Linked DNA regions of Homo sapiens: region 1 is linked to region 2. A link means that fine-mapping ties the variant in region 2 to the expression of a gene that starts in the linked region. Tissue or cell type: prefrontal cortex. Region 2 holds a variant in brackets; the other region holds the start of a gene. All regions are shown on one strand. Distances are from middle to middle.

Region 1 (4,397 bases), 38 kb after region 2:
AAGTTTAAACACAAAATTTATTTACACTTAATATACACCCCTTATACATATAGCCTGGAGGTAATTTTATACAATAGTTTTAATAATTCTGTGCATGAAACAAAGTTTGTATGCATTGAATCATCAGAAAGCAAATATTAATATGCCCCTATCTCATGTCAGCTCTCAAAAAGTTTTGAATTTTGGAGCATTTTAGATTTTGGATTTTGGGATCAGGGATGCTCAGCCTATACAGCCTATACCAAGATATCTGGCTTAGGAAACTAGTTAGATGGTAGCTATGCTCTAAGACTGAGAGAGAACACAGTAGGCAAAGCTCAAGGAGAAAAAGAAGCAAAGAAAGAATTGAGATGGGAAAAATAAGAATGATGTGATGAAAGACGCAGGATAAGGAAGTTTCTTGAAGCAGAGGCAGCTAACAGTGTTAATCTAGTGCAATGGCCAAGTAGGCTGGAAAATGAAAACAATTTATTGAATTTGGCAACTATATTAGCTTATCACATAGCTTGGTTAGAGCATTTTCAGCAAAGTGATCAGAGAAGCCAGACCTGAGTAGATTGAAAGTTAAGTGGTGATATTGTCAGGAAATTCAGTGGAGAAGGAAAGGAGAGGCATACAGTGGTAGCTTAAAGAAAAGAGAAAGTCAAGGTCATGATGCTTGAGTATATTTTTAGACTGAGAGGACAAATCCAGTAGAAAAGGAGATTTTGAAGCTGCTGCAGCAAACTGATAGCTTTGAAGGGGAGGAGAAATAGAAAGGACAGCTGCTGCTTTCAGTGATTCAGAAGTGGAAAAGGGGGGTTTGAGAGAATTCTTGTCTTTTGACCTTGCTTTCTTTTATGACGTAGAAAACTTGGCTGAGAGAAGCAGACATCCCATAGAGAATTCAGAAAAAGTGTCAAGGGTTTGAAAAACCAATTAGAGAGAGGTAAAACAAACTGACTAGGAAAAAATGCAAGTTTTGTTGAGTAGTTTAGAAGGCCCAGTCAAGTTCCCAATCACCGAAAAAGCATATCCAAAAGGTCCAAGTCTTAGCTTTAACACTTAGAAGTTGGGTGACTTTGGCCGGGCACGGTGGCTCACACCTGTAATCCCAGCACTTTGGGAGGCCATGGCAGGTGGATCACCTGAGGTCAAGAGTTCAAGACCAGCCTGGCCAACATGGTGAAACCCCGTCTCTACTAAAAATACAAAAAATTAGCCGGGTGTGGTGGTGGGTGCCTGTAATCCCAGCTACTTGGGAGGCTGAGGCAGGAGAATCACTTGAACCTGGGAGGCAGAGGTTGCAGAGAGCCGAGATCGCACCATTTCACTCCAGCCTGGGCAATAGGAATGAAACTCCGTCTCAGAAAAAAAAAAAAAAAGAAAAGAAAAGAAAAGAATTTGGGTAACTTGGGCAAATGATTTATCTTCAGCTCCCATTTTTTCCACAAATAAAATGAACATAATGACATTGATTAACATGACTATAAATTATTAAATACTATTCAATTAATACCAGCTTGGGTTTGAACACCCAAAGTCAAGATTTTCACTTACAAATTACTATGCAGCCTGGCACACTCAGAGGCTGGCTATACTATCCCTTTAGCAATTATATGGGCTCTGCTCCTTTCATTGCAACAGCAGGGTTTGTTCTGTTAGTCTTTCACTCTGCCATGTAGCTTTATTTTTCACAGCTGTCCTCAATACGCCAAAGCTGTACACTACACCACTCCCCTTGAATCTTGTCTATGCACTGGCATCTCTGCTGCAAATCCTCCTGTAAGACCACTGTCCACCATATTCTCCTTAGCTTGCATCCTCAAGATCATTCCTGCCTAGAGATATGGAGAGTGGCCAAGACAATGGAATCATGGTGAGGCAGGAAGCTGCACTTCTTATGAAAGTCTTTATGGTCTCATGATATCTTTAGGCTAAGAAAAAGCAGTGCTATACATTACTGAGCATCCCAGGTCAACCAGTGAGCCATCAAATGGCAGCGTCTACAGAAGAACACTGGACGTCATTTAATCCAATCCCATAGTTTTACAATTGAAGCAACTTCGGTTCAGAGAAGTAAAAAAAAAAAACAAAAACAAAAACAAAACAAAACAAAAGCTTCCTCATGTCCGCTTTGTTATTTAGGGACAGAGAAAGAACAAGAACTGAGGTCTTCATCCCCTTTCAGCACCCATTCTTTCACATTAAGCTCTGATGCTTCTCTCTGATGGCTTAAAACATTTTCCAGTTCTAACCAACAGACCCAATTGGACTATCGTGTAATCACTGATCTTACCTTCTTTATGGATAAATAAGCCTGCTCTTTCATCTCTTTTCTGGGCTGCTGTTTGTTCAACCAATTTTTCAAACCTGTTCAAAGCCTTTTTGAAATTGCTCATCTGAAGTGCCATGTTGAGACGCTTTTCCTTCCTGATATCCATAGGGACATAGGGGATCTTTTACTTCTGTACAGAAAGAATACTGCAAGTTTACCAATTTGGAAAACTTTCCAGTTGTTACAGTGCCTCCCTGCTGTCTCAGTTTTTGCCCTAGGTCTAATTCCTTTGATCTTAAAATCCCATAGTGCGGGTAGGAGTAAGAGTTGCCACTAGGATGTTAGCAGGGAGGAAAGCTGATTTAGGTCTGATGCATTTCATACAGACAAACATTTCAGTAAAAATCCTGACCTCACAATGTCATCAGTGTCCTTCATAGGGTCCTCATTGCATCATAATATCTCTGTAACATCCTACTTCCTTCATAAGGAGGAGATTGAGATATTTTTTTCCCCACAGACTGTGTGTGTGTGTGCGCGTGCACATGTGTGTGTTGTGTATACTGCTTGAGAGGGAAAAGGAATGAGTAAATAACAAGTAAGAAAACTGGGTAATACTTTCTCCCTCGTGTATCTCTTCTCACCTCAAACCTTTTGCCTTCCTCACAATACCGCGGAAAGTAAAGTTTGGCCAGGCACGGCGGCTCATTCTTGTAATCCCAGCACTTTGGGAGGCCGAGGTGGGTGGACCACCTGAGGTCAGGAGTTCAAGACCAGCCTGGCCAACATGGTGAAACCCCCGTCTCTACTAAAAATACAAAAATTAGCTGGATGTGGTGGCGGGCACCTGTGATCTCAGCTACTCAGGAGGCTGAGGCAAGAGAATCACTTGAACCTGGGAGTCAGAGGTTACAGTGAGTTGAGATCACACCACTGCACTCCAACCTGGGTGACAGAGTGAGACTTCCTCTCAAAAAAAAAAAAAAGTAATATTCACACTTATTCTTGCCACTGTACTGGATATGGAAATTCGAACTTCTAAAGATGAAATGTATTTCAGCACCTGTCATTTCTACCACAAACATTTTTAGAGGTCATAGGGAATACAAATGCTCTTCTTCCTTTGTGCATTGTCCTTCGATTGAAATAATAAAGTGAGCCAAGGATAAGGAAGGAGTGGCTTCTGATTATGAGGACAGCTTTTCAAGGTAAGAGGTCAGATGAATTAGAAGAGGCCTTTCTGCACATCTCCTTCCCAGTCATTGCAATCTCCAATCCGACTTAGTCCAAATGCTATTGACTCCGGTTTTCCAATTTTCAACTTTTTATGGGAAGGAGAAGTTGTTTAATGTTTCTCAACAATTAGTTAACTTCCTATGGCTTAGGTGAGTTAGATAAATTTCCTACCCCTTGGTAGTCCATCTTTTAAAACATTCTTCAAGAACTTGCATTCAGAGATGAAGCAGATGGCATTTCAGAGCACCTCCAATTCCAGTACTGTCTTCTTGGTGTCCACCTCTAACTATCTGTTAGGAGAGCGCAGTAAGATTTTATTTAAAGAAAAATCCCCCAACCCCATTTGTTTCTCCTCCTTTTTCCTTTAAAGCTTTCAAACCACTGTACAGTGATGTCTGGAGAACCACTCTTCCTACAATTCTAATGCATTCACCATTAATTCATCTAGGAAATATTTACTGAATACACACTTCATGCTAGAGGCTGTTTTAGACACTAAGGATACAGCAGTGAATAAAATAGCTTCTCAAGTTTATAGACTAATGCAGAAGACAGACAAACAAATAAATAATGTATCAGTGAGCAATTGTGCTACGAAGAGAGAGGAATTTTGTGTGTATTAGGGTGGGGGTAAAAATCAAAGTAAAAGAGGTAGGGAGATCAGGGAATTCCCCATTAATAGAAAGATTTCTGGGCAGAAACCTGAAAGAAGTGAGGTAGCAAGTCATGTGGATAAATGGTAGAAGGATGTTCTAGGGACAGCAGGCGTAAAGTCCTGAGATTGGTGTGTGCTTCACATATCTGAGAAACGACAGAGGCCAGTGTGACTGAGGTGGTGTGGGATGAGAGAGAGAGGTAGAGAGAGAAGGCAAGAGAGTCAGGGGGTGGCATCCAGATCACGTAG
Region 2 (4,397 bases):
GTATCTTATTTTAATTTACATTTCCTTCATGACTTAAAGTGTTTTGCATCCTTTCTTATGCTTATTTCCCATCTGTGTATCTTAGTATTTATTCAGATCTTTTGTTTATTTTTCAATTGGGTTGTTGGTTTACTTATTATAAAGTTGAAATAATTTTTTGTATATTTTGGATAACAGTCCTTTATCAGATATGTCTTTTGCAAATACTTCCTTCCAGTCTGTGTCTTGTCTTCTCATTCTCTTGGCAGAGTCTTTTGCAGAGCAGAAGGTTTCAATTTTAATGAAGTACAGCTCATCAATTATTTCTTTGTTCTAGAACCATTTGTTAAAAAGAATATCTTGCTCCATTGTATTCCCTTTGCTCCTTTGTCAAAGATCTGTTGACTATATTTATGTGGGTCTATTTCTGCTTTGTTGATCTATTTTTTCCATTGTTTTACAATACCGCACTATCTTTATTACTATAGCTTTATGTCTTGACTTGTCAGTCCTATGATTTGTTTCTTCCTCTTCATTATTGTGATGAATACTCAAGACCTTTTGCTTTTCCATATAAATGTTAAAATGAACTTGTCAAGATTCACAAAATAACTTCCTGAATTTTGGGTGAGATCGCATTGACTCTACATATCAAGTTGGGAAAAACTGGTATCTTGACAATAGTGAGTCTTCTATTCATGAACGTGGAATATCTCTTCATTTAATTCCTTGATTTCTTTAATTGGAGTTTTGTGGTTGTCCTCATTTGGATCTTGCATATTTTGTTAGACTTATACCTAAGTATTTCATTCTCAAATGCGAATGTAGATGGCATTGTGTTTCTTTTTTTTTTTTTTATTTTTTTATTTTTTTGAGATGGAGTCTTGCTCTGTTGCCCAGGCTGGAATGCAATGGCACAATCTCGGCTTACGGCAACCTCTGCCTCCTGGGTTCAAGCAATTCTCCCACCTCAGTCTCCCAAGTAGCTGAGATTATAGGCACCCACCATCATGCCTGGCTAATTTCTGTATTTTTGTAGAGACAGGGTTTCACCATGTTGGCCAGGCTGGTCTTGAACTCCTGAGCACAGGTGATCTGCCCGCCTTGGCCCCCCAAAGTGCTGGGATTACAGGCATGAGCCACTGTGCCCAGCCTATGTTTTTAATTTAAAATGCCACTTGTTAATTGTTAGGATATAGGAAAGTTATTGACTTGTATATAATAACCTTGTATTGTGCAAACATGCTATACCTGATCTTAGTGGGAAAACTGTCCAGTACTATAGATGATGTTAACTGGAGGTTTTTTGTAGATGTTTTTTACAAGTTGATGATGTTCCCTCTATTCCTACTTTGCTAAGTGTTTTTATAGTAACTCCTGTTTTCTTTTGATAAGTGTTAGCATGGTATATCTTACCCTATCCCTGTACTTTTAATCTATATGTGCCATTATATTTAAAGTGGGTTTCTTATAGACAACATAGAGTTAGGTCTTGTTTTGTGATCACTCTGACAATCTCTGTCTCTTAACTACTGTATTTAGACCATTGACTTTTAAAGTAATTATTGACATAGTTGGATTAATATCTACTATATTTGTTATTGTTTTCTATTAATTGCTGCTTTTCTTTGTTTCTATTTTTGTCTTTTACTCTTTTTCTGCCTTTTGTGTTTTAAAATAAACACTTTACATGATTTCATTTTCTCTATTTTCTTAGAATATAAGTTACACATTTTTTAAAAAACAATTTTTCGTGGTTGACCTATCATTTGCAATATACATTTACAACTAATCCAAGTCCACTTTCAAGTAACACTGTACTACACAGGCAGTACAAGTATATTAAAATAAACAAAAATCCTAATTCCTTCCATTATTTGTATTATTGCTGTCATTTATTTTGCTTACACATAGCAAATATACCATATATACATACATATATGTTTATATGTGTATATATTGTGTATATAATTGAATACATTGCTGTCATTATTATTTGAACAAATTATCTGTTAGAAAAGTTAAGAATAACAAAAATAACAATTTTTATTTTACCTTTACTTTTTCTTCCTCTGATGCTGTTCTTTTCTTTATATAGATGCAAGTTTCTGACTTACGGCTTTTCTTTCTCTCTGAAGAACTTCTTTTACCCTTTCTTGAAAAGCAGGTATACTGATAGCATATTTCCTCAATTTCTGTTTGTCCGAGAAAGTTTTATTTCTCCTTCACTTTTAAAGGCTAATTTCACGGTATACAGAATTCTAGGCTGGTAGGTCTTCTAACACTTTAAATATTTCACTCAACTGTTCTTGCTTATGATTTCTGAGGAAAAATCACAAGTAATTCTTGTCTTTGCTTTTCTACAGATAAGTTGTTTTTTTCCCCTCTGGCTCATTTCAAGTTTTTGTTTTTTTTTTGACAGAGTCTCCCTCTGTCGCCCAGGGTGGAGTGCAGTGGTGTGATCTCGGCTCACTACAACCTCCGCCTCCCAGGTTTAAGCAATTCTCCTGCCTCAGCCTCCTGAGTAGCTGGGATTACAGGTGTGCGCCA[C/A]CATGCCCAGCTAATTTTTGTATTTTTAGTAGAGACGGGGTTTTACCATGTTGGTCAGGCTGATCTCTAACTCCTGACCTTGTGATGCACCCACCTTGGCCTCCCAAAGTCCTGGGATTACAGGTGTGAGCCACTGCGCCCAGCCAGTTTTTTTCTTTATGTTTACTTTTCTGCTGTTTGAACATGATATGCCTAGGTATAGTTATTTTTTGGCATTTATCCTTCTTGGTGCTTTCTGATATTACTGGATCTGGGGTTTGGTGTCTCATTTTAATTTGTGGACATTCTTAGTCATTACTTCAAATGTACCTTTTCTTCCTTTCTCCCTTTCTTCTTCTGGTGTTCTCATCACACATATGTTACACTTTTCACAGTTGCCCACAGTTTTTGGATATCCTATGGTTTTTTTTGTTTTGTTTTGTTTTTTCAGTTTTTTTCCTCTTTGCTTTCTGTTTTTGAATCTTCTATAAATTCTTTCCTCAGCTACGTCCGGTATACTAATGAGCCCATCAAAGGCGTTACTCATTTCTATCAGTGTTTTTGATCTTTAGAACTTTTTATTCTTAGAATTTTCATCTCTCTGTTTACAATGCCCGTCTGTTCTTGTCTGCTGCCTGCTTTATCCGAGCCCTTAGCCTGTTAATTGTAGTTGTCTTACATTCCCATTCTGATAATTCCAACCTCCTTGCCATGTCTGCATCTGATTCTGATGCTTGTTCTGTCTCTTGGAGTTGTAGTTTTTGCCTCATTAATTTTGATGCTCTGTTGTTAGGTGCATCTGCATTAAGGATTGTCAGAGCATCTTTAAGAATTGACCCCTTTATCATTATGTAATGCCCTTCTTTATCCCTGACAATTTTCCTTGCACTGATATCTGTTCTATATAAAACTAGCATAGCTTCTTCTGCTTTCTTTTGATAAGTTTTAGCATAGTATATCTTTCTGCATCTTTTTATTTTTAGCCTATATGTGTCTTTATATTTAAAGTGTGTTTCTCATAGACAGCATATAGTTGGGTCTTGTTTTTTTGATCACTCTGACAATCTGTTTTGTGCCTTTTAGTATGCCTTGTAATTTTTTTCTTGATAGCTGGACATGATTTACTGGGTAAAGGGAACTGCTATAAATAGGCCATTAGTAACATGTCAGTAAGCTGTGGGGGAAGGTGAATCCTGTGAGTAAGTCTCCTTCTTTTGATGAGCCTGTGTGTCTGGATTGCGAATTTCACAAGTGCTTGTCAGTCTTCCTCACCCTCCCTCTTAGGTGCGACCAGAGGTTAGAGTGGATGTTTTCCTTCCCTCTGTGAGTTATTCCCTGACAAAGTTCCAATAGCTTAGACTCTGATAACATAGTTTCTCTTGAGGGCATACCTTGGAAAGAACAACATGTTCTGGCACGTTTCAAAATGGTGCCTTTTCCTTCCCCTCCGCCAGAAGTAAGAGAGAATTTTTCACTGATACTCACTTTAAGAATCTGTTGAACTCCTGGAAGTAAAACTCACAAAAGCATAGGGGCCCCTATGACTGGGCACCCCTGGAATTTTTAACTCTAAAATTGTCCATGCTGAGCACTTGTCCATTACAATTTAGGTTTTCCTGCCCTATACTGGTTATTCAGGGGGTTCCTGCCCATGAATTTCTGCTCCAGTAAGTTGTGATTCCCAGTGTTTGCCCCTCTGTCTCTCCAATGTGGGGGCAACAAAACTGCCTTGTGACCTTACTTCTCTGATGGATCTAAGAAAAATTATTTATTTTTTAGTTTGTTACATTTTTACTTGTTAGGATGGAATGGCAACTTCCAAGCTCTTTACATGCCAGACTGGAAGGCAGCCAGGAGTCTCGATGAGCTTTTCTGAGACATCTTTATTA

Which allele goes with the higher level. Alleles are on the strand shown, and positions count from the first base shown. SD is a standard deviation of normalised expression in the study named.
For the expression in prefrontal cortex of the gene that starts at base 2,627 in region 1, C is the low allele of the variant in region 2 and A is the other (large effect, 0.77 SD a copy in GTEx).

What was found.
Region 1: WDR64 starts here. The variant in region 2 is fine-mapped to the expression of WDR64 in prefrontal cortex (GTEx, PIP above 0.99). The same link has a PIP of 0.9 or more in cerebral cortex.

What each region holds. Positions count from the first base shown.
Region 1 is chr1:241,650,511-241,654,907 of GRCh38, reverse strand. WDR64 (WD repeat domain 64) reads right to left here and starts at 2,627. Exons shown (of 28, transcript NM_001367482.1): 1 at 2,279-2,627. The coding sequence starts at 2,423.
Region 2 is chr1:241,688,468-241,692,864 of GRCh38, reverse strand. All of the region lies in intron 8 of WDR64 (WD repeat domain 64), which reads right to left. All of the region lies in intron 1 of LOC124904603 (a long non-coding RNA gene), which reads left to right. Among named protein-coding and RNA genes, the nearest start is that of WDR64, 38 kb to the right of the region's middle. The variant C/A (reference allele first, on the strand shown) is at 2,530.